Linked DNA regions of Homo sapiens: regions 2 and 3 are each linked to region 1. The links come from fine-mapping of genetic effects on gene expression. A gene starts in region 1. Each other region holds a variant in brackets. All regions are shown on one strand. Distances are between the middles of the regions. Region 1 holds the start of TMEM51-AS1 (TMEM51 antisense RNA 1). Region 2 overlaps KAZN (kazrin, periplakin interacting protein). Region 3 overlaps TMEM51-AS1 (TMEM51 antisense RNA 1).

The links. PIP is the estimated chance that this variant, and not a neighbour inherited with it, causes the effect.
Region 2: its variant is fine-mapped to the expression of TMEM51-AS1 in cerebellum (GTEx, PIP 0.97).
Region 3: its variant is fine-mapped to the expression of TMEM51-AS1 in cerebellum (GTEx, PIP above 0.99). The same link has a PIP of 0.9 or more in cerebellar hemisphere and iPS cells.

Annotation. Positions count from the first base shown.
Region 1 is chr1:15,146,531-15,156,832 of GRCh38, forward strand. TMEM51-AS1 (TMEM51 antisense RNA 1) reads right to left here and starts at 5,934. Exons shown (of 5, transcript NR_027136.1): 1 at 5,761-5,934. It overlaps TMEM51 (transmembrane protein 51), which reads left to right and starts at 7,217. Exons shown (of 4, transcript NM_001136218.2): 1 at 7,217-7,424. RefSeq lists silencers at 7,040-7,309, 7,370-7,419, 7,510-7,689 and enhancers at 7,399-8,060, 7,840-7,929, 8,061-8,722.
Region 2 is chr1:15,109,967-15,120,018 of GRCh38, forward strand. It overlaps KAZN (kazrin, periplakin interacting protein), which reads left to right. Exons shown (of 15, transcript NM_201628.3): 14 at 2,461-2,575; 15 at 4,505-8,077. The coding sequence ends at 4,669. TMEM51-AS1 (TMEM51 antisense RNA 1) reads right to left here. Exons shown (of 5, transcript NR_027136.1): 4 at 8,361-8,938; 5 at 1,849-7,841. Among named protein-coding and RNA genes, the nearest start is that of TMEM51-AS1, 37 kb to the right of the region's middle. RefSeq lists enhancers at 1,898-2,477, 2,468-2,607, 2,478-3,056. The variant G/A (reference allele first, on the strand shown) is at 5,032.
Region 3 is chr1:15,127,281-15,137,582 of GRCh38, forward strand. All of the region lies in intron 1 of TMEM51-AS1 (TMEM51 antisense RNA 1), which reads right to left. Among named protein-coding and RNA genes, the nearest start is that of TMEM51-AS1, 20 kb to the right of the region's middle. The variant A/G (reference allele first, on the strand shown) is at 4,626.

The DNA.
Region 1 (10,302 bases):
GTCATGGGGAAATGACTTTTGCATCGTGCTCAGTCTTCAGGATGTCTTGTTAATGCCACAAATTTTATTCCTAGAAGCCTCTGGGACTTCTACTTTTGAAACTCAAAGCCCAGGCTCTTGTAATGCCAAAGTATTGGTTCTTGAAACTCAAAAGCATCTCTGCTTTTCTGCTGGATGAGGCTTCCCCTAAAGGAAGAAGAGCCACTGTCTGGAAAGAACAAAAGGGAGGAAAAAAAACTTTCATCAAGTGAAATATTATCACACTACAGCAGCAAGGCGGAGTACGCGGGCAACCAGGACCGTGGCAGGTGTGGAAGATACTGTCATTGCTTCTCCCTTTGGGCCCCTCTGTCCCCAGGTTTATGACCCATTCTCCAAACCTGGATCAAGAAGTCCCATCTGAAGGGTGTCACAAGCAACCAGTTCTATGAGAGCCAGGGTAGAGAAGCTGCAAGAACACAGCCTCCAGGCAGCCTGGGTCCATGCCCAGACCCCAGCTTTGCCAGCTCGGTGTTCATGGTCAGGTCATTTAACCTCTCTGTTTCAGTTTCCCCATCTGTGAAAAGGGGAAATATAGTACCTTCCTCATGTGGTGACGAGCCTGATCAAATGCAGCAGGCCTTGTACAGTGTGTAGCAGACTGCCTGGCCCTGGTCAGCACTGTATGACGGTTGGCTGCTATTATTGTTGTCATTGGCTTATCCAAGGGGTGAGTGGATTTCCTTGGAATCCCATCACACAGGGCCCTTGAGCAGTTAGTTAACTAGCAGAAGGTCAGGGCACCCATGCCTGGCCTCTGGCATTACTCCTCAGCTGCTTGTCGAAGCTTCAAAGGGACTCTCTTAGTGTCCTTTTATTTCAAGAAACAGAAACTCATCAGGAAAGGAAATTCCTGGGAAAAACAGAACAGGAGGGCCAGCAGTAATCCAGGCCTCCTGGATTACACATTAAGAGTAAGTGGGGACTGGCGCGGTGGCTCACACCAGTGATCCTAGCACTTTGGGAGGCCAAGGCAGGTAGATCACTTAGGCCCAGGATTTTGAGACCAGCCTAGGTAACGTAGCAAGAACCCCATCTCTACAAAAAAAAAAATTAAAAATTAGCCAGGTGTGGTGGTGCATGCCTGTAGTCCCAGCTACTCAGGAGGCTGAGATGGAAGAATCACTTGAGCCCAGCAAGTGGAGGCTTGCTTCTTTCTCCTGCTCCCTCTGCAGTTGGCTTTCCTGCTTCAGTGTGTGCCAGTCCAACATGGCAGCTTCCCTGGGCTCGAGGTTACCTGCTGCAGGGACCTGCTGGGGTCTTCTGACAGCCATTGGCATTGTTTCTGTTGTCAAAGCCTCCATTTGGTTCAGGTGTCTTCACCAACCCCCAGGTGACTCCAGGTGAATCCTGAGAGCCTATGCCCATTTTGAGCGTCCTTGCCAGTGACAGGCATATGACCCAGTTCCGGCAAAGGAGGTATCAAGGAAGTTTACTGGGAGCTTCTGGGAAAGGTTTCGTCGCTGATGAAAAAGAGACCCACGGGAAGATGAGAGAGCATGGAGCCCAAGGGATGACGAGTAATGAGGCTGAGCTTGTGAGAAGGGCCCACCCCCTTAGGAAGTCCCACATGTCCTTGCAGAGAAGGCTGGACTGCATGAGGGGACAACGGGGACCCACTGAATTGCTGACTTTACAATACAGAGAATGGATTAAAGGGGGAGGGTTTGGGAGCAGGACACCAGTTAGGAAGCAGCCAGATGAACTGCAATCATGCTGAGGCTTAGAGGGAAGTTTCTACAAGCTGGAGCACAAGAGGAGATGGGGTGATAGGGAGGTAGAATTGCTAGCTGGCTGTTCTCAGGGGTCTCAAGAACTTGTACCCCAATGCGACGATGTCCTCAGAAGCTTCATTCTGGGCTGTCTACACAGGTCCAGTTACACTGGTAACTCAGATAGAAACACATTTCCAGAATCAACATTTTTCAGCAAACGGGACAAAACTGTTTTATTTAAACTAATGGTCCAACTATCCAATTTTGCTTTGCGCTACGTGAGCACAATTTGTCTGCCACACAGACCTGATTCAGCCTTCAGTGGGGCTGGGCCAGTATATCACCAGTGAAACCTACACGCAAGACACATCCCTTCCCGGTGACTAATGTGCACCGTTTCAGGAAAAGGCCAGGTTGAAAGTGCACATACGTGATTTACTGCTGACTTTGGCAAGAGTCATACAGCAGAGACACTGCTCAGCTCCTCACAGGTTTAGAAATAAGCCCACATTAAGAGTAAGTGGGGGCTGGGCGCGGTGGCTGACACCTGTGATCCTAGCACTTTGGGAGGCCAAGGCAGGTGGATCACTTAAGCCCAGGATTTTGAGACCAGCCTGGGTAACGTAGCAAGACCCCCATCTCTACAAAAAAATTTAAAATTTAAAACTTAGCCAGGTGTGGTGGTGCATGCCTGTAGTCCCAGCTACTCAGGAGGCTGAGATGGAAGAATCACTCGAGTCCAGGAAGTGGAGGCTGCAGTAAGCAGAGATTATGCCATTGCACCACAGCCTGGGTGACAGAGAAAGATCCTGTCTGAAAAAAAAAGTCAGTGGGAAGAGAGAGTGACCTGCTCAGAACCAAGCAAGGGTAAAGAATGACAGATGGCAGAGAACAGAGCAAGCAAGGGAGGATACAGGGACAGATAATAGGAGGATATGCTCCTGGTGGACAATACAGGTGGTTTCCAGCCAACTTTATTATTAACACATTCTCACTAAAAAATAAAATTACCTCCCCAACACACACACACCCCCCCTCAGTTTCTAAGGGTAACCTGTTTGGTTTGATTCCTCCCATAGTCTTTCTGTACATAATCAAATATATGTATGTGTGTCTACATCTTTTTAAAAAGTCATTTGTGAGCCAGGCATGGTGGCTCATGCCTGTAATCCCAGCACTTTGGGAGGCTGAGGCGGGTAGATCACTTGAGGTCAGGAGTTCAAGACCAGCCTGGCCAACATTGTGAAACCCCATCTCTACTAAAAATACAAAAAATTAGCTGGGCGTGGTGGTGTACGCCTGTAATCCCAGCTACTCGAGAGGCTGAGGCAGGAAAATTGCTTGAACCGAGAAGTCAGAGGTTGTAGTGCAACCTCTGCACCACTGCACTCCAGCCTAGGTGACAGACACTCTGTCTCAAAAAAATAAAAAATAAAAAAAGTGGTTTGTGTAGTATCATCATATTTAGTGCCTTTCTCGGTGAATGATATAACTTGGACGTTCTTCCATGTCAGATAGCTCTACCTCATTCTTTCTGGTGACTTCATAGTGTGCCAGCATGAGTCTATGCCACAATTTACTTAGCATAGCTCCTAGTGCTGGGCATTGAGGTTGGTGACCACTTTTCACCGTTACAATTAATCAGCAATGAAAACCCTTGGACGTTCTGTTCCTGAGCACATGTGTGAGTTGTTCTGCATGATGATCTATTTCTATAAGCTGATTTTCCAGCCTCACTTTCATTGATGTGCCTGGAAAGTCAGTAGCATGACAGACTGGGGTCTTGGTCACTAACCAGGGACAGTCGAATATTTTAAAACTGTCGTTATTTACCCATTCAGCCAGAAAGAATAAAAATGTAATGCCACGGGAATTCTCAGAACAGCATCCTCTCCTCTTTGAATTCAGGCTTTCAGAACTAGACAGGCTAATGCTCCCACAACTCATGTTCAGGCCACACTGGGTACTTTGTCACATACTAGTTCACCTGATCCCCGAGTTGGTCCTGGAAAATAGGTATTATTAGCATAGAAATGCTAATAATTTTTTTTTGACACATGAGGAAACTGAGGCTCAGAGAGGACAAGACATCTGCCCAGGGTCACACAACTCACAAATAGCAGAGGATTCAGAAACCAAAGACAAAGGTGATGGAATCCTGCCTTCTTTCTAAATCCGTGATGTAGGCTAGATCATGGTGCCTCTTCAGAAGTTTACAGTGGACAGTTAGCCAAAAAAGCAGGTGAAGTGAACATCTGCCTAGGTGACTGAGTTTGCAGGATGTATTAGTTTCCTCCCGCTGCTGTGACAAATTGACCCAAACTTCATGGCTTAGAACAACACAGTGAACTATCTTCTTACAGTTCTGGAGGTCAGATGTCCAAAACGGATCTGCAAATGCCTTCCCACCTTCAAATCATAAGGCAGACCCAAACTTGCCTTTTTGTGGATGCCAAGAGCTCCTTCTGGATGCTCTGGCTGACACTCCATTCCTTTCCTTTTCTAGCTCCTAGAGGCTGCCCACATTCCTTGGCTACTGACCCTTGTCCAGCAACTGTATCATTCTGATCTCTACTTCTATCACCACATCTCCCTCTCTAACTCTGACCCTCCCGCTTCCCTCTTGTAGGAACCCTTTTGACAACATTGGACCCACCAGGAAAATCAAGGATAACCTCCCCGTCCCAACATCTTTAACTTGATCCCATCTGCAAAGTCCCTTTTGCCACGTAAAGTAACCAGTTCTGGGGATCAGGTTGTGAACATCTTTGGGCAGCCATTATTCTGCCTATCACAGAAGGGGGTTCCTAGCTTAGTGATTTAGAGCAAGGGCCCTGCAAAGACCCCAGATTCAAATACTTTGTCACTTGCTAGCAGATCCAGGTACCTAACTTCTCTGAGTCTTAACAGCCTCATCTGAAAAACTAGAATAATAGAATCTTCCTTCTAGGGCTGTTTTGAAAACCAAAGAACACAATGTATGCAGTGCACGTGAAACACAGGGTTCAATAAATGGTAGGGAAGATTCAGAGAAACTAACCATGTAGAGGGAGAGGGCTGTGGAGGAGAGGAGGATAAGGAGAGGCATGCTTCCTTTGGTAGCTTCTTCAGTTTTGCCTGGGCCTCAGCTTTGCCTGAGAATTTCGTCAGTCTCTCCCCAGATCAGCCAGGGTGAGCCTGCTTAAATGGAACACTCTGAAGATGATATCCTGTGATAAACAAGACCTGCCCAGTTGAGTCTGCAGCAGAGTGGGGCGGGTCTGGGATGACCCTGGCATGGAAAAGTACAGCAGCTCTTTGTCTTCAGATTAGGAGCTGGGACAGCTGTTCTGACATGATCACCCCCCGCCCCCACCCCAGGCCTCTCCAAAGTCCATCTTGCAGAGTCAAATGAAAACCAGATTCCTGGTCTTATCTGAGAGCTACGTGACTGTTTCCTGTCACTCCTTTGGAGCCTGGGAAGGTCCCCACATGCATTGTCTAAACTTTGGGATGAATACGCACAGCTCTTAAATGGGAGCATATTATTATAGGTACCTGCCTACACAAAGGGTCCTCCCTATTCACTAAAATCATGGGTTATTATTTAGGGCTTTCATTCATCCAACAAATGTTTATTCCGCATTTGCAGGTGGCCAGGCAAGGTGAACATTCTCTCAGGGTGGAGAGTATGTGCAGACAGGAGGAATTATGCTATGGGAGGGAGAGCAGAAGCTCTGGAGTGGATCATCTTGGGTCTAGATCCTGATACTTCCCAGCTGTGTTTTCACTGGGCAAAATGACCTCACCTCCTTAAGCCTCAGCCTTCTCTTCTATAAAGTGGGCATAACAAATAACCGCCTCCTAGGTTATGAGGATTAAATGAGATGGTTCAGGGGATGTGGGTGGTAACCCCGCCCCTGGTTCATAGCAAGGATGTGAGGAATAGCAGTTGCTGTCATAGACATGGAGACTGTTTCCCCAAATGCCTTCCCACCCCCAAATCATAAGGCAGACCCAAACTTGCCTTTTTGTGGACGCCAAGGTTCTGTCGAGCTGTTAGGGTGCAAGTTAAGAAGCCAGAATGGCGGGCTGAGGGGAGAAATGCCCGCATGTTACAACTCTGCAGGTGTACACACGTGGACACCATATGTACCCATGAATTCCGCCTTTGGAAGTGAACTTGATTGCAGCCTATTTTCGTCTGGAGGCGGTGGATTCCCGGTAGGAGGCGCCTTCAGTCCTCGGCTCGATCCTGTGACGCCAGCCAGCTGCCTATCGGCTTCTCAGTGTTTGAACTTCAAAGGGCTGGACGCTCACCCAAGAAGGGGACCCCGGCCTGACCTCTCTCGGAATTCAAAAAAATCTAAGGCTCAGAGAGGGAATGGGAGCTGGCTCTTCCCTCTGTGTTTAGCATCCACGTTTTTTGGCGGTCTGGCTGAAACCAGCCCACCCTAGTTCGGGCGCCAGAGCAACGCAGTTCCGAGGGCAGATCTCCAAGGGGCGGAGGCAGAGCCGCGGGTGAGAGGCTTCCGCGCCGACTTCGGGTTTGCACTCCCCGGAGCCAGAACTCCGTGGCGGCTCCGGGCCTCCGTGGATCCGAGCAGAGACTGGCTGCCCGCCTGCCACTCGCAGGCTGGGAAAACGCCAGCCGGTGCCTCGCCGGGAAAGTTCTCGGCAAAGCTGGGGATGAGCCCTCAGCAGGGCAGGCTCCCGGTGCAGCGCGCCCCCATCCATTGCCCGCGCGCAAGAACCCGGAATGGGCCCCACCTGGGCCGGGACTCGGGCGTGCGATCCCGAGGGCGCCCTGGGGACCACGCATCGGGTGGGGACCCTGGCCGAGGGCGTGAGCTGACTCAGTTTTTAAAAACTCGCTTCCTCCTTCCCTACTTGTGCCGGTCACTCACCTCGCTGGGAACCAGCCCAGGGCAGAAGGGGGAGAGGGAGGCGGTGGCCTCCCCAGGAAGGAGGAGAGGTGAGTATCCCGCCAGGTAAAGGCGGGGCGGCTGGCGGAGCTGTGCCTCGGCGTCTGCGCCTGGTGTGGGAGGAAAGCGGGTCTCCCAGCTCCACTTAAACCCCTAAAACCTGGGACTTCTAGCTTGAGACATTCCCCGACCACCACCCGTCACACACACGCGCGTGCGCGCACACACGCATGCACACCGATTCTCTGGGCCCTAGGGAGGAGGGGGGATCAGGGCTCTATTTTCTCCCGACCCCCTCTTATCCAACTCGGCTGGCAAGGGTTGGGGAGAACTTAGGCCCAGCCCCCGGCACACGCTCAGCGCGCTCCAGCGGCATACGCTGGGGAGTGGGTGCCCGCCTCGCTCAGCTGCGATCCCTCGCCTCGGGCCCGGGGGTGGTGCCGAGGGCCGGGAGGGAGGGTCGGCCGGTGGGCGGTGCTTCTCCGGGCTGGAGGCCGCTCCTGGCCGGCACCGCCCTCCGCCTCCCGCGGTCCCTCCCTCCCGCACGCCGGCGCTCCCAGGCCGCGCTTCCTGCGTCCCCAACCCGGTCCCTGAGAGGGCAGTGCGCCCTCTCCACCACTGCGTTCCCTCGGCTAAGAATCCCCCGAACCCCAGCCCCGCGATCGCGGCGCCCACCGAGGAGGCCGCCCGGGTGGGGCGCGGGGGTCGCGAAGCCCGCAGTCCCGGACCGCCCAGCCGAGACGGAGCCGGACCCGCCGCCTCCCGGGTGAGTCTCAGCCGCCGCGCCTTGCGCCCGCTGCTTCCCGCGGCGCGCTGTCGGTTCCCCACAGGGCCGTGTAAGGGGGCCGAGGCCCGTTTGGGTCTCCTGTCCGTCCGTCTGTCCGCCGAGCGCTTCCCGCCTGGGGTCGACCACCGGGAGGACTCCGCACCCCGCACCCTCTGCGGCCGCGCCCCGCCGGCGCGGGACGCTCCCGCCTCCCGGGCACCGCGCCTGGCCAGCTGGCCTCGGCTGGGGAAGGCAGCTGGCCTTGGGGGCCCCCTGTTGGCGGGAACAGGTGCTATCCGCCCGGCGGGCTTCGAACCCTTGGCTTCGCCAGAAGCGCTTTCAGCGCGTGGTTAGGAGCAGAACTTCCCAGTAGGTCCCAGGAAACCACCTTGGCGCTTTGCTCGCGCATCCCTTACTGTATGGAAGTCGGGGCCTTTTAGGGATTTAGATTCGTGTGTGTGTATGTGTGTGTGTCGCTCTACAAGCAAACACGGGGGTAAAGAATCGGGCATGAGCAAAGTGGATTGAAACTCGAGTCCTTCCCTGAGCGCGTCGGTTTCTTCATCTGTGAAACTGACATGACAACGTCCCAGGGTGCGGCGGGGCATTCATGCCCAGCACCCAGCAAGCACTCAGCGGTAAGTTACGTTACCGGGCCTAGGGGAGAGCAGAGTACAAATCAGATCTCAAATCAGCGCACAAACGGGAGGCGCTTGGCCCGGCGCGCCTGGTCTGCATTACAGGATAATGGTCTCTTTCCCAACCAGCGGTGGGGGCGAGAGACCTGGCCCCTCCCCCACGGTTTCCCCAGGGAGCAGCCCGTGGGGTGTCCTGCGCAGCGCTCCGAGGTGCCTGTGACGGTGCATGGGACTGCGGGTCCTTCCCAACAGCAGGGGAGGTCTGGCTGCTGGGAACCCGGGCGCTGCCGGAGTGGGGTGGGCGGGGACGAGGTGGGCGGGGCAGGGACCCGAACCGGGAGGTAAGTCAGCGGGTGGAAGGCTTTCCCCTCTAGGACCGGCCGGCTTCTGGCTTTCCTTTTGAATGGGTTACCCGGAGAACAGCTTGTCTAGGGAACTGTTGGCCCTGGGACCGTGAACAGCTTTCACACCCCGGAAACCTGTCACAAGAGGATCCTGACCTATTGGGACAGAGCCCCTGCCCCTCCAAATATCTCACTCCACCAATTGAGAGGTACCCCCAGACTGGGAGAAAAGGCCAAAGAAAGAGAGAGGAGGCTAGTGGTGAACCTGCTCCTCACGGCTTCGGAGCTGACAGCTCTCTGATGGGGTGTCTGGGGCCTGCCCCAGTGACCCAGAGCCCAGAAGCCTCAGGGAGCCCCCAGCCTAGTGAGGGAGTCAGGGATACTCATGAAAAGTGTTGCAGAATTGGCGATACAGTCAGGCCACACCACTTGCTGGCTGTGTGACCTGACCTCTCTGAGCCTCAGCTTCTTCATCTGTAAAATGGGATGATGATCTCCAAGGGCGAGGTGGGGTATTTATGCCTAGCACATGAAGTATTCTATAGTAAGTTATGTCACAGGGCTTAGACGAGAACAGAAGAAAGGAAATAACTCAGGAGGTCCTGCTAAGAAAAGAGTATTAGAATATTCATCAGGGAACTGGAGTCCCCCCAGGGAACAGGGGAGGAAGGGTGTCTGGGCAGATCGAACAGCACAGGCAAAGGCACAGCGACAGGAGAGTGCCTGGGGTGTGCTGGGCTGGGGAAGGTGCTCAGGCAGTGGAGGGTGTGGAAAAGTAAAGGGAATGGAAGGTCCGGAGTGAGCTGGACTGGACAGGTGGGGGCTTTCTTGGAATCATTCAACATATGTTGGCCGAGCACCTTCTGTGGGCCAGGCGCTGTTCTAGGTGCTCAACAAAGATGAACAACATGGAGAAAGACGTCCCTTTCATTCAAGTTCTCTAAGCAGGGAAGTCGTCTGATCCCATCCATATGTTAAGAAGATAATCCTGGCTGCCTGGAAGTTGGCGAGGATCCTAGAGAAGACTCCTAGGAGAGAGAGGCTGGCCTGTGGGTTGGTGGGGGCAGTGGGAATGAATGGGGGAGCTGGAGGAGAGGCCCATACAGGAAGCAGAGAGTAATGTGTGGCCTTCACTCATGACTGTTGGTCAAGGGTAAGATTCTGGGGTTCTACATGAGGCCCAAACTGCCAGCCTGGTCCCCTGCCAGAGAGAAGTAGTGAGTGAGTGTCTGGGGTATTGGCAGGACCCAAGCCCCTCCAGCTGCGACTCTCCGGCTCGCTGGCTCCAGATGTCACGAGGCCTGGGAGTTTCTCTGTCTGCGTGAGGGATGGGAAAGCTGGAGGCAGAGGCCAGCTGGAGCTTCTGGGGCTCCCGTTTTAATAGGTTGTGTTTCTGGTCAACGTTCCTCCCTCCCTCTGCAGGCCTGGCTGTAAACCCCTCAGGCTTCTTGGGCTGGAAGAGGCCAGAGTGTGAGGAGCTTTAGTGTGGATTCTCTTCCCCCAGCCCCAAATTAAGGTGGGAGTCATGCAAAAGAGAAGCATTGTCTCCCTCGGTGCTGGGAAAGTTTCAGAAGCTCAGGTGTCTTCTGACTTGGGATGTGGTATGGGGGCTGCTGACTTTTGCTTTCACTTTTGTTTCTGCTCTGAAGCTGGGAGGAATCCTCCTCTTGCAGCGAAAGCTGTGAGAATATCCTTCTCCATGCTTCAAGTCTCCCTTTGCTTGGAGGGAAAAGGAAGGTCCTAGAATGTCTCAGGTGGAGGGGACCTTCAGGTCATCAGAGACATCATTCTCATTTGACAAACAAAACTCAGAGAGGGGATGGGACTTACCCAAGGACACACAACAGTTCAGCAGCAGAACTGGGACTGGAACCCAGCCCTCCTGACTCCCTTCTA
Region 2 (10,052 bases), 37 kb before region 1:
GTTTGTATGTTTGTATGTTTATGTGGGTATATGTGTGTTGTGTATGTATGTGTAGATGGTGTTTGTGTATGTGTGTATATATATATGTGCGTGTGTGTGCCTGTGTGTGTATGTGTGTATATGTATGTGTGTATGTGCGTATTTGTGTGTGTATTTGTGTATGTGTCTGTGTATTTGTGTATGTGTGTGCATATGTGTTTGTGTGTGTATATGTGTGTTGTGTATGTGTGTATGTTTAGGTGGTGTTTGTGTGTGTTTGTGTATGTGTATATATGTATATGTGTATGTGCACTTGTGTGTGTATATGTGTGTATGTTTGTGTGTGTGTATATGTATGTGTGTATTTGTGTATTTGTGTGTGGGCATATTGTATATGTGTGTATGTTTGTGTGTATGTGTGTATATGTAGTGTGTATTTGTGTGTTTGTGTGTGTCTGTGTATTTGTGTGTGCGCATATGTGTTCATGTGTATTTGTGTATGTGTGTATTTGTGTGTGTTTGTATGTTTGTGTATTTGTGTGTGTATGTATGTGTGTGTATTTGTGTGTTTGTGTGTATGTGTTTGTGTGTGTGCATATGTGTTTGTGTGTGTGTGTGTGTGTATCCTCTCATTTAGTCCTCACAATGACCTGCCGAGGAAGTTCTGTTATTAACCCCACTCTGCTCAGCACGCGGCCCAGGCCATGCCAACGCTAAGGCACTGAGCCAGGCTGCTGACGTGGAGCCCACACGTGCGACCACTGTCCTACCCTAAATCCCAAAGTGGGAAGGCCGTGGTCTAGACCTTGATCCCAGAGGCCCAAGTTCAATTTCCATCCCTGCCACTGGGTGTCTTGTGTATCTTTGGACAAGACACACCCCCTCTTTGGTCTTCTGTCTCTTCAGTGAAAATAAGAGATGGGACCCTGAGGCTCTCCCAGGCTTATTTGACTGCTAGTGTTCCAAGAGCTGGGGGATCCAGCACCCCTCTGTGCCAGAGAGCAAACAGCCAGCTACCTGAGTTTACATTTTTTGGCTTCTGCAATTACAGCTGCTTCCCCACTGGACCTGGGGAATTTCGCCTCCAGGTGGAGCAGAGGGGCCATTCATGAGGGCATTTCCTGACCCACCACTGAGCAAGGCCCTCCCTGTTATGTGGAAGCCTGTGGAACCCAAGAGTTTGAGAACGTAGCTCATTTGCCATTCAATCAGTGCTGTCTCCTACACACCACTCCCCTCCCTTGAACTTTCTCAGCAAAATTTGCCCCAGAAGAAGAACTTCTCTGAGGCAGCTTAAAAGATGCTAGAAGGTTCTGTTGTTGTTGTTTGTTGTTGTTGTTGTTGTTGTTGTTTTAAACAGAGTCTTGTGCTGGAGTGCAGTGGTACGATCTCGGCTCACTGCAACCTCCACCTCCCAGGTTCAAGTGATTCTCCTGAGGTTCAATCTTAGCCTCCGAGTAACTGGGATTACAGGTGTGCACCACCATGCCCAGCTAATTCTTTTTGTAATTTTAGTAGAGATGGGTTTTGCCATGTTGGTCAGGCTGGTCTCGAACTCCTGGCCTCAAGTGATCCACACGCCTTGGCCTCCCACAGTGCTGGGATTACAGGCATGAGCCACCATGCCCGGCCTAGAAGTTTCATTTCTTTCAATGAGTCTACCTCCGTGGTGACTTCTGGCTCCAGGCCGGGCCTCTTGCCCCAAATCTGTTTATCCACAGCATTGATATGCAGACTTTTTCTGTATAAGGCCAGATAGTGAATATGTTACGATCTGGGAGCCATATGATCTCTGTCAAAAGTCTACAACTCTGTCCTTATAGCAACAAGACAGCAGCCATAGACAACACATAAGCAAATGGGCACTGCTGAGTTCCAATAAAACTTTATTTATAAAATCAGTCGGCCAGCTGGATTTGACCTGCAGGCAGGCTGTAGTTGGCCAAATCCTAACAGAAGCTTCCATGCTTTTGCACAAAGAAGGGAGTCATGGGGGCAGCTTCAGGCAGAAAGCCAGGTGGGGGACACAGATTGCAAATTCAGAGCAGGGGAGACTCCTCATGCTTCTCCAAGCACAACTAATTAGCTACCATGCTGAGATTCTCATCTGGAGTCTGTTGCAGTAAGGTTCACAGTACACTGAAGAGTTAAGATCAAGACTTTGGAGTGTCAGAAGCCTGAGTTCAGATCTTGATTCTGCCGCTAACAGCTGTGTCGTCTTGGGCAAATTGCTTGCTGTCTCTGGCCTCCTTTCCCTGTAATGCTGGGCTGGCAGTCCCAAGCCCCAGGCATGTTGTGAGAATCACGCTTATAAAGTGCTGAGCACAAGGATGGCACGTGGGAGGTAATCAGTCGGTCTCAGCAGCTGTGGTCATTGTCACCAATGTGTGTGTGTGTGTGTGTGTGTGTGTGTGTGTGTGTGTGTGTGTCTGGGGAGCTGACTGAGCCTCCCCTGCTGACTCAAAATGGTCCTCTCTTCAGCTCCACAGGCATCCGGGAGGCTGAGCGTTTTGGAACGCCCCCTGGCAGGGCCTCCAGCGTCACGCGGGCAGGAAAGGAGGAGAACAGCAGCGGTCTCAAGTACAAGGCTGGCCGGGTAAGTCTCTCAATGGATTTACCTGTGAGTCCTGCAGACCCGGGAAAGGTCTTTTTTTCTCCTCCCGGGAGCTCTGTGGCTCCTGTGCTGGCCTGTGAAGGTGGAGTGCCAGGCCGGGTCACGGGGGCATCCAGGACAGATGCCCTGGATGTACCTTCAAGGAACCTTCACGATGCTTTGGGTACAGTGCACAAAGCCCCCGCAGGGCTTCGAGTAGCACCTGGATCTCAAAGTGCAGGTCTCACCTGCCTGCATGAGAATCACCTGGGGCTATTACTGAACTTGCAGATTCTGGGACCCACCTTGGTCTCCTGGAAAAGGAGTTCTCTGGGGCGAGGGGGATCCTGCATTCAGCTAGGCTGCCCAGAGGGTTCCGGCGCAGCCCCAAACTCTGAGCCCCAATCACTGATTTCAATTTGCGACTTCAGTGACCTGACCAATAGCAAAGATGAACCCTCTGGTGACTCCAACCAAACAGTATGAAAACATGTGCAGTTCAGGTCTGATTGCACAGACTCCAACTGACACAGATTCCTCAATGGAAATGCACAGACAGAGACGGCAGAACTGGGTAATCCAAAATGTCTTCCATTTGAAGAAGGCATGATCCCCATTCATTCATAAACATGAATACATTGCCACTTTACCCTTAAGAAGCTCCATTCTAGAACGTGCATTCTAGTAATTGGGGCTGATATTGCCCCCCAAAGGAGTGAAAATTTGTTTTGGCGCTGGTGGGGGGTGGGGGCGGTGGCAAAAATTCTTATTCTTTCTATGTAAAAGCACAAATGTACATATGGTACGGAAGCAGAGGCGTAGTATGTCTGTGGCATTACAATTTCACAGCAGGGGTGCAATTAGGAAAAAACTGTCTAAAAAGTCTCCTTAGGGAGCAATAATAATAATAAAAAAAGAAGATCTGGAAACACTGGTCTGGAAAGAAAGGCAGTCAAATAAATAGTTACAAAGCACTAATGTGACTACTTTAACACAGAGATGTGTGCAGTAAGAGAGAAGTATTTTTGAAGGCCTACTATGTGTGATAATAATAGTCACTATTCATCAAGTACATCAAGGACTTACTCGGTGCAAGCACTTGCTATGTGCTTTGCAGATGGGACTTGACTTTTTTTTTTTTGAGACAGGGTCTCTGTCAGGCTGGAGTGCAGTTGCACGATCTCAGCTCACTGCAACCTCTGATTCCTGGGTTCAAGTGATTCTCATGCCTCGGCCTCCTGAGTAGCAGGGACTACAGGAGCTCGCCACCACGCCCGGCTAATTTTTGTATTTTTAGGAGAGGCGGGGTTTCACCATGTTGGCCAGACTGGTGGGACTTTACTTTTTACAACAAACCTGGGAGTTAGAAACTACTATTCCCATTTTGTAGCTGAGAAAAATGGGCTCAGAGAGGGGAAGTGACTTGTCCAAGGTCACACAGCTGGGAAGTGGCAGAGCAGGGATCTGAACCTGGGTCTGTGAGTCTCCAAAACTCGCATTCTTTCTGCCACACCAGGCCGTCTAGAATATTCCTCCTTGACTTGGGAGTGCAGTCAGACCTCATGGGCCTGCTCAGACATTCTCACAGGTAGTCTCCAGGACACACTTCCTCAACTCTCCACCCACCAAGGAGGGAAGAAGGAGGCTTTTGTGAATCAGGAATAATCAGACTAACGATATTTGTCCTCACCCTTGGTAACCAACTGAATCCTTCCGGGGGCAGGGGGACACAAAGCTCTCCCCTAATGGTCATTCACAAACTCCCCTCAACCTCCCTGAGCAGGGAGTATTATTACTAATAGGAGGAGCACACAGAGGTTAAGTAAGTTACTCAATCACAGAGCAATTAGAATTGGAGACATTTCCCAGACCTTCATTCTTAATTCTTGTTTCTCTTCTTCCTGTCCTTTGATCATATTCTTCTCTTCTCAGCTGCCCCTGGGGAAGATAGGAAGGGGCTTCAGCAGCAAAGATCCCGATTTCCATGATGACTATGGCTCTCTTCAAAACGAAGATTGCGGAGACGATGACCCCCAGAGCAGGCTGGAACAGTGCCGTCTGGAAGGCTACAACAGCCTGGAGGTCACCAACGTGTAAGGAACTGGTGGCTCCACCAGACCCAACGTGAGAGACCCAGGAAGGAAGAGAAGCCAGATGGCCCCAGGTGTCGTTCTCACTGTACATAGCGGCCGCAGGCTGAGGATGTCCCTTGCTCCTGGGCAAAATCCCGATGGACTCTGCGGTTTCAGCTCCACAGCGCCCAGGAGAGAGAAGACACCAGCCCACCTGTCTTGGGTGGGCCATGGACTTTCCTGTTCAGCTGGAGATGGGCCCAGAGGACCTGTCACAGTGTCCGGCCCTGCCTCCATCCAGGATACACAGGCTCCACCTCAGAGTGACCGTCACTGTGGAGCAGCCAAGCAGTCCCTGGAGCCTTAAACGGAGCTGCCAAGGTGGGA[G/A]GAGGCCCACAGTTCCCTAAAACACCCTTCCGGCGGGAGCAGGGGGGACCCCAACCCCACACCCCAGCGCCCAGTGCATTGGCAGAGCCGGGTGCAGGAAGTGCTGCCTCTTGCCGAGACGTCGGACAGGGCGGGGGTTGGGGAACTCTCGGCTACAGCATCTTACCCTTGACTGAGAACTTGGGTCCTGACTTGGCTCACTGAATCTCTCTTGGGAGAATGCAAAATCCTTCCACCTGAAAAGCTCTGTGACACATGGGGGTGGACGTATTGAAGAGCTGTTTGCCGATCCACCCAGGAGTGGCTACGCTGAGTGGGGAGCCGGTGAATGATCCGTGCAGGAGTGGGGCTTAGCAGCCACATTTCTAGGAGATGCAGATATCCTATCACCAGAATGAAAGCTATTGGGACAACAGGATCGGGGATGACCGACGGCCCCATATGGTGAATCTCTGGCCTGTGGTTTGGCTTTACTGAGATTCCAAACCCCACTATCTGCACTCCGTGACAGTGGTATGGAGTGTGGCAATGAGTTTGGGGTCTGGGGCAGGGAAATGCTTGACATTGTTAACCCAACAAACCTTTGTTGTGATGTCCCTGTCACCTGAAACATAGGTGACATAGCTCACCAATGTCCTAACCGAGACACAAACTCCACAGAGCAAAATCATTTGGTATTGGTGGGGAGAACCCCAGCCCTTTTCTTGACCTGCCACTGTTATGCTGTGTGGCTTCTTCCCAGTGGCCTCACCTCTCTGTGCCTCGATGTCTTCATCTACGATACTTCTGGTTCCCTCCCAGGGACATCGTGAGGATTAACACTTGCTAATATCTGTAACACAATTTGTAACCTCTCAGGAGACAATGGGAAGTTATGGGGTAGCTAATTTCCCATTTACAACACAGAAATGATATAGAGCTAGTTCGCTCCAACTCTTTAGGTTGAAGCAGTGTGCAAAAGGAAGAAAAGAAATGTTTAATGTTCAGACCTGCCAAGAGCCTCCAACAGGGCTCAAGAAACATATAAATCCCATGAGCACAGCCTTGAAAACCAGTTTGACTCAAGCCTTCGGGCCTCAGTTCATTGACCAGATGACAGCCACGTGATGATTAGGGAAGGACGGATGCATTGCGATTCTGCTTACACATCGGGTTATCAAAGCGAGTCACTTGTTGGAACCATGATGCTCGACCTCCTTCAAGGCCGTTTGCACTGGGGCTTGAGTTTCCAAGATTCACAACAGGTGTCAGCCTCTGAGAACCCTCAAAGCGTGTGTTCTTCAACCTGGCAAATTGTTTCCTCTCATGGGGGAAGCCGAGCTCTGATGAACTTGAGAATTACACCTCTCTCATGCCGAAGACCGTGGTGTTCCCCCTAATGACATAAACGCAGCCTTTCTTGCTGTCTGAGACCAAATGTCTAGTTGGTAGACAGGTGGATGTTTGGCCTCCTAAGGGCACACTTCTGATCCTGGGCCCCAGGTGGTGAATCTCTGGCATGTGGCTTGGCTTTGTTGAGACTCCAAATTCCATTATCTTCATGACATTCGGCCTCATCCATAGGGTCCTGAAGCTGCAGTCCACAGCTCAGAAAGGAGAGGTGAGACCTCCCTCCAACCTGGTGCCACAGGTCTCTCCCAAGCCACATCCAGCCTGGATGACCTGGGACCCCAGAAACTGCCGTTTGGGAGGCAGCAACAGCAACGTGCCCAGGCAGGCAGTTATTCCCACAGAGTGAGCCAGAATTGTAGCAGGGCACTTGAATGCAGAGCTGATGATTTGAAACCAACGTTCACCCAACTTGTCAGAAATGGCACTTACATGGTTCGATCTTGCTGGAGACAAGTGGACAATTGGGGGTCACTGGCAGAGACAGTATTGCCCAAAATGTTCACAGCAGGAGGCCAGCAGGCCTGAGGCAACACGGGCAACCGCGAATGCCTCTTTTGGTTTAAATTATGCCATCACAACCCTCTTTCACCCATGAGGCTCCCCATCCCTGACAGCCAGGTGAGCATTTGGAGCTGGTTTCTCAACATGAGGATGGGTTGGTTGTTAAATTAACAACCTCCACAGTATCAGATTGAGTGAGCTTTGTCTGCTGGAAAAACCTGAAACGTCAACTCTGCTTCAAGGTCGGCAAGAAGAACAGAAGGCGGAGACTTGGCAGAGAGACTCAAGCTGATTGTCACAGGCTACAGAGGGGCCAGCTCCAGAACAGTGACCAGCTACATCCTGTCCAAGCAGCCCGAGTGTGGTCTTGGTCCCTGCAGGGCAATGTGGGCATCTGGACCTGGGGACGATGTGGATGCACTTCTTGGAAAGCTGTTGTAGCTTGTGCCTGTGGGTGGAGAAGGCACCTGCCTGGTAGACTCTCAGCTTTCTGACCCCCAGGAGCCTCTGCGAGGCCCCTTTGTCCTTGGCTGAGCCGGACCTTTCTTTTGGAAATCTGTCTGTCTGTTGGCATCGCTGTTTTCAGACCCCAGGCTGCAGAGGAGGGGAGAAGCCACACAACAATCTGGACCCAATAAAGTGGAGAGAAGGGCGTCTCTACACAGCCCGGCCAGCGTGGAGGGCCCCAGGACAGGGACCCAAAAGCTTGACGTCACTGAACAGGGCTGGGTACTGGCAGAACAGGAAGATTTGGCCAGAGGTGACCTCAGTGTTCCCTCCAGGGGCATCCAGGCCCCTCTGACCTGGGGAGAAGAAGGCCCATGCTCAGGCCCACCTCCCTCTTCCCATCAGAGCCCATGCGTCCTGGGCACCACCACTTCCACTCTGCTTTTCGAGGCTCCGGAGGGCTCTTCCTGCTGTGAAAGGAAAGGAGAAGAAAGCCTGTGGGCAATGGCAACCTCTGAGTCTGGCATTCTTGCCAATGGCTGGCCAGCGAGGAGAATCTCCCGAGCCCTGACACACAAAGGCATTTTGTGGCTGCAGAGGAAATGGGTTGGCTCTGAACAAAGATGCAGTTTCTAGGGCCGTGGCCCCAAATCGCTTCCCCGAGAGTGAATTTTAACACTGTAACAATAAATACTACTGCACAGCACTTTATGGCAGAGGGGGCTTTTTTCTGTGTTTTCTCATTTAGTGTTCCCAGCAGCCTCTTTGTGAGATTTTGAACCCATTTCACAGATGGAGAAGCTGAGATCAGAAAGGTGGAGGGCCTTGCCCAGCTCTGTAAAGCTAAGACATCCCAGGGCAGGGACTCAAACCCAGTCCATCTGCCTCCAAATCCCAGGATCATCCTCACAATTACACACTCTCCCAACCCTCACCCCCCTGCAATGTTGGCAAACCCCCCTCCCCCCACCTCCCAGCATAGGATTTACCTTAGCAGGCAGCATCACTCAAAATGCAATTCAGGTGCACTCGGAGTGTCTGGAAAAGTCCCTGTGGGGGCATTGCCTTCTGCCCTGGGAACTTGCAGTCAGGAGTGGACACCTGACAAGTCCCCTCCCCTTGTGTCATTTGTGTCACTCCGTCACTCCTCCTGGGGGCACTTACATCTTCAGATTACCGGACTGGATTTCTAGTGGTGGGACGCCCCAGCACAGTGCCCTTCAGACCGCCCCATGGCCTCGGATCACCTGGTGGGGAGGTATTTTGGGAGTGCAGGTGCAGATGCGGGAATTCTGGAGTCCCACCTGAGATCAGCATTTCCAACAAGCTTCCAGGTGCTGCTGCCGGTCCAGGGATCTCACATCGAGTTCCAAGGTCATGGCGCACAGATGGGCCTTCCTAGCAAAGCCCTAACCACACAAGGTGGGGGCTGGTCTGTGGGCTCCACCCAGGTATCCAAACAGCCCTGATGGAGCCCCACCTACCAAACCAGGCTGTGTGCTTCTCATGGGGCAGGAACCCAGCTGGACGCGCTGCCCATTGCTCATGTCGGCAGGGGCTGAGCACTCTGGAAGTGTGTATTAAATGGGGAGGAGACAAGAAAAGTTAGAAGACGCTGAAAGATAGACTGGGGATGGCCAGTTTCTCTAGGCTGACCACAGATACTGTATTGTTCAATCCACCTGGGAGCCAGGGCTGGTCCTTGGTGGTGGGGATCCAGTGGCAGAACTTACACAGGTCATGAAAGGAGGTAAGAAACACACCAGTGGCCAGGGTGATTGATTTCAGATAGTGACAAGTGTGATCGGGACTTCAAGTAGAGTGCGGGGGATCCTTGAGGATTTTTGAGCTGAGACCTAAATTCTGAGGAGCCAGCCCTGCAAAGATCTGGGGGAAGACCATCCCAGGCAGGCAGGCAGTCCCTGAGCTAGATGCTGGGACGTAATGGTGAAAAAATCCTGCCCAACCACTACCCTCTTGGTGGGAAAGACAGACATGAATTAAATACTCCGCCAAGTGTCACTGTGGTCTGTCTTTTTTTTTTTTCTTTTTTTTTTTGAGATGAAGTCTTGCTCTGTCACCCAAGCTGGAGTGCAGTGGCAGGATCATAGCTCACTGCAGCCTCAATCTGCTGGGCTCGAGCAATCCTCCCACCTCAGCCTCCCGAGTGGCTGGGACTACGGTCATGTCACCACACCTGATTAATTTTTTTTTTGTAGAGCTTTCACTATGTTGCCAGGCTGATCTTGAACTCCTGAGCTCAAGCAATCCCCCTCAACATTGGCCTCCCAGAGTGCTGGGGTTACAGGTGTGAGCCACCACACCCAGCCAACTGTAGTAAGTCTTGACAGCAGAGGTAGCTGGTAGTCAGAGGGCTTTTCATATCTTTTCACATGGGGGATTTAATGTAGAAAAGAGAAGGTGAGGCCTGGGTGGAGGGGAGTTCAGCAGGTGGAGAGGATTCTAGACAGGATGAACAGTGTGCAAAGGTCCTGTGGCAGGAGGGGCAGAGCCCCACGGCTACAAAGGACCCCCTGAGGCTGGAGTGCTGGGGGTGAGGGTACCATCTCCTGAGGGTAAAGAAGGGGCACCAGGCAGATCCTCTGCTGGGCCTCTGCCCCCTCCCAGGACCCTCGACCTGGCTCCCGTACATCTGTGTCATCCCAGATGCAATTAGTGCT
Region 3 (10,302 bases), 19 kb before region 1:
CAAGTATGCACATAAATATACAAATAAATATTCCTGCAAATGCTCACCTGCATGTCCCCCAAATCAGGTCACACTCCATGAGGGACATAAGTGCCACAGTTGGGAACCACTGCTTTATGGCACCCAACAGATTCCTCATGCAGCATCGGCCTGCAGTCTCCTGTGGCTGTGAGCTCACTGTACCATGAGTCTGCCTGTGCCCTTCTTAGTTCCAGTTGCTCATGGGGACTTTCTATCACTCTGCCTCCTGGTCCCTCTTCCACGTTGACCCTCTGTTATTTGTTTTGTTTTGGGGAGACAGAGTCTTGCTCTGTCACCCAGGCTGAAGTGCAGTGGCACGATCTTGGCTCACTGCAACCTCTGCCTCCTGGGTTCAAGTGATTCTCATGCCTCAGCCCCCTGAGTAGCTGGGATGACAGGCATGAGCCACCACACCCGGCTAATTTTTGTATTTTTAGTAGAGACAGGGTTTCGCCATGTTGGCCAGACTGGGCTCGAACTCCTGACTTCAGGTGATCTGCCCGCCTCGGCCTCCCAAAGTGCTGGGATTACAGGCGTGAGCCACCGCGCCTGGCCTGTTATTTTTTTTAAGCAGCATAAATGCCTCCCTCCCAAAACATCTCCTTCCCCCAACCCCATTACAGACCCTCAAGCCTTTTCCATGCCCCTTGTCCTTCTTCCATGGTCTCCCCTTCCATCTCTTCCTTCTCTGGACAATCCTCTCATAAATACATCCCTGAATAAGGACACCGTGCTCCCACATAGGCCCAAGCAGTGGAATCGTAATGAAGGGCCCAATTCCCAAGGGTCAGGCCCTGTGCCCTTTACATGAGATCTAATTGAGTCCTTGCTGTAATCCTGGCAGACAGGTACTCTTATCCCCACTTTACAGAGGCAGGAAAAAGTTAAGACACTGGCCCCGGGTCACATAACTAGTAGTATCAAAAGTAGGGATTCGAACCCAGATGTTTTTAACTGCTATCCTCCCTTAACCTGGACTTTATGCTCCTAGTAATACGATCGAATATTGTATCAGCTTTTAAAATAATCTACATCCCACAGTTGCCTCATTTATCTTGTGGGCAGCTGAATGGGTGGTGTTCAAGTCAAGCTGCTCACGAGAGTCACTGGAGTACTCTTGTTAAAAGTTCCGATTTCTAGGTCCTTCTCCAAAGCCAATAATTTAGGGTTTTGAGATAGGGCCTAGGGAATCTACACGCTAAAGTTAAAATGCTTATTTCCAGGCCTCGGGATTTCTGATTCACTAGGTGTGGGGTGAGTCTGGAGCCTACGTAGTTTTTAAACTTCCTTTGGTGATTCTGTGGCATGACCAGGGGCCTGGGACCAACCGCCCTGGTATATATGGCTCCACTATAGGCAGCGCCTGGGCCATTATAGCTCGCAGTCCCAGAACTCGCCACTAGATGGCAGGACAATACGCCCCTCACCAGCCTAGCCCAGCTCAGCTCAAGAAGGACCAAAGCAGCCTAGGCCACTCAGAGATCCAGGCCCAGTAGACAAAGTTTCAGGTGGGCAGGGCCCCCCACCATCCCTGCCAGCTGTCTGCAATCCCAAAAGGTGGCTTTTGGGGGGGAAATGGCTTTTGTTTTCTTTCCTCCACAGGATGCCAGAAACATCAGTGGGGTCGGCAAAATTTGAAAGCTGGCCTCAGGACAAATAAAACCTGTTAAGCCACCCAGATTCCCTTCCAGCCAGGAGGCCCAGATCCTGAGCCCAGCACGCTGTGAGGACGATAGACCACCCAGCAGGAGATGAGTTGAGGAATGGCCTGATGCCAGGCAGGAGGTCTTCCTCTGTGCGTGCAGCTCCAACGTGAAACGGCAGCTTTTTCCCTTCCTCTGAGGGGTGGCAGGCAGGTGGCCTCCTGGAGTAAAACCACAGGACCACAGGACCACGTGGGCAGCCCCAGGGAGTCAGACACACACGTGGGAACCTCGAAGCAAGACCCTGAACATCACTTTGTCCAGCCGCCTGCCTCCTCTTCATGTTCCTACACGATTAATGAGCCTCCCTCCTGGCCCCTGGGCATATGGGGAGCGCCTCCTCCTCTGGGTGCCAGGACCCCCCTGCCAGGGACAATCAGGCAGCCAGGTGTGGCCTGTGAGAAAGGGGAGGCCCTTGGGTCACATGAAAACTGATTCAAGGAAGGACTCCATGGTCACCAGAATGATGGGTCCCCAGAGGCCCACACTCTGGTTCCTAGAACCCGTGACTGTGATACTTTACATGGCAGAGGGAGCTAAGGTTGCAGGTGAGATGAGTGCTGCTCATCAGTTGACCTAAAAATAGGAAGAATATCTAGATTAGATTATCCAGGGGGCCCTATGTAGCCACAGGGATCCTTAACGCTGGGTGAAGGAGGAGAAAGAAGTGGGTCAGAGGTAAGTGTGGCTACTGAAAAGGTCAGAACGGTGCAACATGAGAAAGACTCAACTTCCATTCCTGGCTGTGGAGATGGAGGAAGGCGCCACAGACCAAGGAGTGCCGGCAGCCTCTCACTGCTGGAAAGGACAAGGGAACGGATTCTCCCTAGAGCCTCCTGAAAGGGACACAGCCCTGCTGACACCTTGATTTTAGCCCAGTGAGTCCCATGTCATATTTCTGGCCACTGAACCGTGCAAGAATAAGCCACCAAGTTTGTGGCAATCTCCTACAGCAGCCACGGGAAACTCACACACTGGGCAAGGTGGCTCATCAAGGTAGGTAACATTTGATCCTCAGGGACGAGGCTGGGTGAGATAGAGCAACGTGTGGGACTCACACTGCTGGTGTTAAAAGATAAATGGTGGCACATTAAAAAGTTAAAGAGTTTATTTGAGCAAACAGCAATTCATGAACTGGGCAGCACCAAATCGAAGGTGGTTCAGGGCTCCTCCAGAGGAGTTTGAAGGAAGGGCTTTGATAGAGTAAAGAGGAAAATCAGATAAATTAAATAAGGAATGTGGAAAATAAAGAAATTATTTGATTGGTTAAGGTTTGGGCAGTTGCCTTATTTAGATGATCCTGGTGGAAAGTTCCTGATCATGTAATTAATGCTTAGCTGGTCTTTTATGATTGGCTAAGGTTAAGCTTCACCTTGTTTATATAGAATCCCAGGGCATGGGAGCCACCTCAGCCTAATGGCCTCCCATTTTATTTTAACACTAGGTAAGAGAAACAGCTCACATTGGGCCAGACATGGCAGTTCATCCTTGTAATCCCAGCACTTTGGGAGGCCAAGGCAGGAGGATCACTTGAGGCTAGGAATTCAAGATCCAATAATAAAATTTTTTAAAAGTTGGCATCAAACTTGGTTCTAATGCCCATGATCTCAAGGTGTTGTGCCCCCAACAGACCAGGCAGCTTCTAAATGGCTCCCAATGACCCCACCTTTTGTGAAGTCCCCTCTCCTTGGTCATGTCTTGCTTCTAAGAATAGAATCCAGTAAAAATGATGGGCTGTCACTCCTGAGATTAGGTTATGAAAGACTGTGACCTCCATCTTGCTTGTGTATGTGTGGGCGTGCTCGCTCTCTGTCTCTCTCTCTGTGTGTGTGTGTGTGTGTGTGTGTGTCTCCTTATTTGCTTGCATTGATAAGGCCAGCTGCCAAGTTGTAAGCCATCCCATAAAGAGACCCATTTGACCAGGAACTAAAGTGGTCTCTGGCCAACAGCCTGCAAGGAGCTGAGTTCTACCAACAACCACGTGGGTAAGCCTGGAAGCAGGTCCCTCCCCAGTTGACCCTCGGGATAATGCAGCCTGTTAGGCATCTTGACTGCAGCCTGTGCCAGACCTTGAACCAGGAGCACCAGCTTTCATCCTGACTCACAGAACCTATGAAATAATACATACTGTTTTTCACAGAACCACTACGTTTTGGCATAATTTGTAACATGGGAATAGATAACTAATATGCCAAGGGAACAACAATTTGCAGAAACATTGCCCTTCCTCCCCCAGAGTGTGCAGTTGGCTCTTAAGAGTGTGTTGTGTTGAAAACCAGAGTAGGGGCCACTCCCAGGCAACTGATTCCAGACAACTAGTAAGTTAATGAGATGAATAATAGTGACAACATTGATAATAGTAATAGTTAACCTTGTGTAGTGCTTACTAGGTGACAGGCATTATTCTAAGTTCATTAAATATAATGAAATGTATTCGGTCCTCACAGCAACCCTACAAGGCAGGTGTTGCTATTTTCACTCTTTTACAGATGAAGAAACTGAGGCACAGAAGGGTTAAGCTGTATATAATAAAACAAATCGTTTTGGTTTGGTTTTTCTAGAAACAAGGTCTTACTATGTTGCCCAGGCTAGATTTGAACTCCTGGGCTCAAGCAATCCTGCCGCCTCAGCCTCCCGAGTAGCTAGGACTATAGGCGTGTGCCACTGTGCCCCGCAAATGTGAGAGTTTTGTTGGGTAGAATGCAAAGGTGGCATGAATTTGTTCAAGATAAAATGCAATATCTCAAAGCAAGTCTGTGCCTGCCAGGGTGCAGCCCCAGCTAAGCACATCCCTGCTCTCAACTGCATCTCCCAAGAGCACCTGTCCCCTCTCTTGTCCTTGCTTTGGTCTGGGCAGTGACCAGACTGAGAAACAGCAGCTGGTTGGCTGCTGGGGCCTCC[A/G]GCCTGACTGAGCAGGTGTCTGCACGAAGCCGTTGCCCAGGATGGTGACCCCCGGCCCTCACAGCACAGCACCCAGACACAGACACTCCGGGCCAACATTTGGGTTAAGAGGGAGATGTGAACATTTTTCCAACAACACAAGTTCTATTAACTCTGGAATCAGTTTTTACATTTTCCCATCTAAAATCTTAGATGAGTTACATAAGTGAAAACTTACTCATGTTGTGATAGTACTTTTTTTTTTTTTTCAAGACAGAGTCTTGCTCTGTCACCCAGGCTGGAGAGCAGTGATGAGATTTCGCTCACTGCAACCTCTGCCTCCCGGGTTCAAGCGATTCTCCTGCCTCAGCCTCCTGAGTAACTGGGATTACAGGCACATGCCACCACGTCCAGCTAATTTTTGTATTTTTAGTAGCGACAGGGTTTCACCATGTTGGCCAGGCTGGTTTCAAACTCCTGACCTCAGATGATCCACTGCTTTGGCCTCCCAAAGTGCTGAGATTACAGGTGTAAGCCACTGCACCCAGGTTACTTTCTACAATTATATGAGTTGAATAGATATTTGTGGGCTAAGTTGGAAAACCACCTTGGTTTTGATAACACTGTCACTATAAGAAGAAAAAAAAAATACACACACACACACACACACACACACACACACACACACACACACACACAATTTGTAGAGATGGGGTCTTTCTATGCCCAGGCTGGTCTCAAACTCCTGGCCTCAAGCTATCCTCCCCTCTCGGCCTCCCAAAGTGTGAGGTTACAGGTGTGACCAGCCACACCAGGCCAAGGAAATATATTTTAATTCCCAGGCACCCACCTATCAAGAAACTTTTGAAATGTAACCAGCTCCGGTGTGGACTGGCCAGAACCCACAAAACAACAATCAGGGCATTCGTGTTCATTGTCAATTGAAATGCCATTGGGTAAATAAGGCCAGAATAACTTTTTCTCCCCCAGGCAGCCCTGCTATTAAAGAATCTCCATTTGTCTGTAGAACTGCATACCTGGGAGGAGAGAAATAATTTTTAACACAAGGGGCAAGGACTAGTTTTTTCCTCCAGGAATGAAAGATACTACTAATTTCATAGGAAAATGAGAACATCAAGAAATAAAACTGGGGTCCTTCTAAAGCGAACAGGGCAATTTTAAAGATTCTTAGACTCATACAAGAGACCTTGCATCAAGCTCCCCCTGCAGAATGGTCACGAGGTGCCTGAGATGTTTATTCTTTCAGCCCTCAGGTGACTAGCAGGTGATCTCATGTGACCAGCAGGTCACTTCTGGTCAGGACCAGCCTTATCTGTTGACCTCAGGGTGCCAAGCAATTATGGGAAGTAAGGCCCTTGTGCAGAGACCCTCAAGCTATAAATGAGCAGGAGAATCACCTGGGTGGTTGCTGAAACTGCAGATAGCACACCCCAGCCCCAATGAGCTAGCTGGTTTTTAGTACCAGAGTGATATGGTTTGGCTGTGTCCCCACCCAAATCTCAACTAGAATTGTAGTTTCCATAATCCCCACGTGCCATGGGAGGGACCCAGTGGGAGGTAATTGAATCATGGGAGTGGTTTCCCCCATACCATTCTTATGATAGTAAGTTTTCATGAGATCTGATGGTTTTATAAGGGTCTTTTCCCTTCACTCAGCTCTCATTCTCCTTCCTGCCACCCTGTGAAGAAGGACGTGTTTGTTTCCCCTTCTACCATGATTGTAAGTTTCCTAAGGTCTCCCCAGCCATGCTGTACTGTGAGTCAGTTAAACCTCTTTCCTTTATAAATTACCCAGTATTGGGTATGTCCTTATAGCCACGTGAGAACGGACTAATATACAGAGCCAAGGCATGTTTGAAGTACCTGGAGAGTTTAAAAACCCTAATGTTAGAGTTCCTTTCCACCCCAGAAGGTTCCTATTCAATTGGTTTGAGGTGGGTCCCACAGTTATTCTTTAAAAGAAGCTGCTAACATGTGGACAAGATTGGATATCACTGCTTTCTCAGCCCAACTGCACACCCAAGGTAAGAGTTTCCTAAGACACCTTGACAGGTGCATCTGGCCCAGGTCTCAGATGTTTTCCCGCCTTCCTGCTGCTGAGACCAGAGCAAGCACTGTGTTAATGCTGGCTGCCACTACTATTATTGTTGTTATCATTTTTATTGTCACCATTAGTATTGGATCATAGCTGCAAGTTCAGCCCACCTGTTCCCTCCCCGTATTCCACGTGGAACCCTGTGGTTTCAGTGAAGCATGGGAGCTTCGTGTTCCATTCTCCTGCCTGTCCCTGGAGATTGGGTCAGCAATGAGCATGTGACCTCATCAGAGCCAATACGATTCCATTCCAGGACTTATATTGAACTATTGGCCAAGAGAAATACTCTCTTTTCCCCTTGGAGGATGACAGCCTGGAGGAGCCAGAGGCACCACAATGAAAAAGAGAGGCTGCCTAAGAATAAGACAGTACAGAAGAGGTGAAGCCAAGAGCTGGAGAGAGATCTCGTCTAAGATGACACTGTTTGATATCCTATTCTGGGCAGAGGGAACAGCAAATGCAAAGGCCCTGGGGTCAGAGGCACTGGGGTCCGGGCTGAAGAACATTGAGGAGGACCTTTTGGCTGGAGTGAGGTGAGTGGGAGGGGGGTAGGAGCTGAGGTCAGAGAAGTGAGGCAGGCAGAGGGCATCAGTAGGGCATTATAGATTACCATAAGGACATTGACTTTTTTTTTTTTTGAGATGGAGTCTTGCTCTGTCCCCCAGGCTGGAGTGCAGTGGTACAATCTCAGCTCGCTGCAGCCTCTGCTTCCTGGGTTTAAGTGATTCTCCTGCCTCAGCCTCCCGAGTAGCTAGGATTACAGGCGCCTGCCACCACACCTGGCTAATTTTTTGTATTTTTAGTAGACACAGTGTTTCACCATGTTGGCCAGACTGGTCTTGAACTCCTGACCTCAAGTGATCTGCCCACCCACCTTGGCCTCCCAAAGTGCTGGGATTACAGGCGTGAGCCACTGCGCCCGGCCTCAAAATGGTCTCTTGAATGTTGAATAGAGTAAATGTGACATCTGGCATCTACACATGGACATAAAGATGGAAACAACAGACACTGGAGGCTATGAGGGAGGAGAGAGAGACGGGAGCAGGGGTTGAAACCGATCTGTTAGGTACCACGCTCACTACCTGGGTGACGGGTTCCATCAAACCCCAAACCTCAGCGTCACGCAATATACCTTTGTAACAAACCTGCACATGTACCTGCTGAATCTAAAAGTTGAAAAAAGAATAAATTTAAAAAATAAAAGCTTGCATCCAAAAACCATGGAAGAATGGTTACTAGAAAACCCTAAACATTGATGACAATGGCTCCAAGGTAGCCCAATTATCTCTGGGGAAGATCAATGCATCTAATTGTTCCTCCCAATTTACAGACAAAGCTGAAGGGGTGGGTTGCCCCTCCACACCTGTGGGTGTTTCTCGTTAGGTGGAACGAGAGACTTGGAAAAGAAAGAGACACAGAGACAAAGTATAGAGAAAGAGAAAAGGGGGCCCAGGGGACCGGCGTTCAGCAGACAGAGGATCCCCGCCGGCCTCTGAGTTCCCTTAGTATTTATTCATCATTCTTGGGTGTTTCTCAGAGAGGGGGATGTGGCAGGGTCATAGGATAATAGCGGAGAGAAGGTCAGCAGGTAAACACGTGAACAAAGTTCTCTGCATCATAGACAAGGTAAAGAATTAAGTGCTGTGCTTTAGATATGCATACACATAAACATCTCAATGCCTTGAAGAGCAGTATTGCTGCCCGCCTGTCCCACCTCCAGCCCTAAGGCGGTTTTTCCCTATCTCAGTAGATGGAACATACAATCGGGTTTTATACTGAGACATTCCATCGCCCAGGGACAGATGCCTTCCTCTTGTCTCAACTGCAAAGAAGCGTTCCTTCCTCTTTTACTAATCCGCCTCAGCACAGACCCTTTATGGGTGTCGGGCTGGGGGACGGTCAGGTCTTTCCCTTCCCACAAGGCCATATTTCAGACTATCACATGGGGAGAAACCTTGGACAATACCTGGCTTTCCTAGGCAGAGGTCCCTGCGGCCTTCCGCAGTGTTTTGTGTCCCTGGGTACCTGAGATTAGGGAGTGGTGATGACTCTTAACAAGCATGCTGCCTTCAAGCATCTGTTTAACAAAGCACACCTTGCACAGCCCTTAATCCATTTAACCCTGAGTGGACACAGCACATGTTTCAGGGAGCACAGGGTTGGGGGTAAGGTTACAGATTAACAGCATCTGAAGGCAGAAGAATTTCTCTTAGTACAGAACAAAATGGAGTCTCCTATGTCTACTTCTTTCTACACAGACCCAGTAACAATCTGATCTCTCTTTCTTTTCCCCACACAAAGCCACTGGAAGCTAAGGCACTTGGTGTTCCTGACCCTGTCATTTACCAGCTGTGTGGCTTTGGAAGCATCACTTCCCTTCCCTGGACACCAGTTCCTACCTGTAAAATGGGAAGATTAGACTAGATCATCTCAGGTCAACAGGCACCATCGGGAAGGGAACCTTCTCCCAAGGCTCAGAAAACCTCTCATGCACACATTTCCAGCAAAAGACCAGATGACCTTTTTAAAAGCGGAAGTGCTGTTGGCAAGAGGGTTTGTTTATTTGTTTGTTTGTTTTTAAGACAGAGTCTCACTGTGTCACCCAGGCTGGAGTGCAACGGGGCAATCTCGGCTCACTGCAACCTCCGCCTCCCAGGTTCAAGTGATTCTCCTGCCTCAGCCTCCCAAGTAGCTGGGATTACAGGCGCCTGCCACTGCGCCCAGCTGATTTTTGTATTTTTGGTGGAGACGGGGTTTCTCCATGTTGGCCAGACTGGTCTTGAACTCCTGACCTCAGGTGACCCAGCCACCTTGGCCTCCCAAAGTGTTGGAATTACTGGCATGAGCCACCACACCCACCTGGCAAGAGGGGTTTTTACATCTTCTTCTGAATGTGGCTGCTGCGGCGTGGTGCCCTCTCTCTTCTTTCTGCCTCTCAGCTCCCATGCCTGGAGCCCAGAGCCTGGTCTAGAGTGGGTATGGGGTGGGGAGGTGAGGGACACACACTAGGTCCCTTTTGCCTTATCTTGGAGCATTTTCAAGTAGAATGACTACAAGGCTTGGAAACACTCCTGTGTGCATGCCTGGCAGAAATGAATGCTCCTGGGTGCCAAAGCCATGCGCACAAATGATCATAGCTGTTTTATTCATAATAGCCCCAAACTAGAAACAACCCTAAAGCTCATCAATGGGAGAATGAAAATATAAATTATGGTATATTCATACAATGGAGTATTACACAGCAACGAAGAAGAAGAATACAGCTATACACAACATCCTGGCTGGATCTCCCAGACTCAATGATGATGAAAGAAGCTAGACACAAAAGAATACATACTGCATGATTTCTGTTTATTTGAAGTTCAAAAATAGGCAAAATTAATTTATGGTGATGAAGGTTCAAGCTGAGGTTATTTTTAGGGGTTTTGACTGGAAGAGGATACAAGGGGAACCTTCTTTGGGTCAGGGAATGTTCTTGATTTTGATCCAGGCAGTGGCTATATGAGTATATACATATGTAAAAATTCATTGGCTGGGCATGGTGGCTCACGCCTGTAATCCCAGCACTTTGGGAGGCCAAGG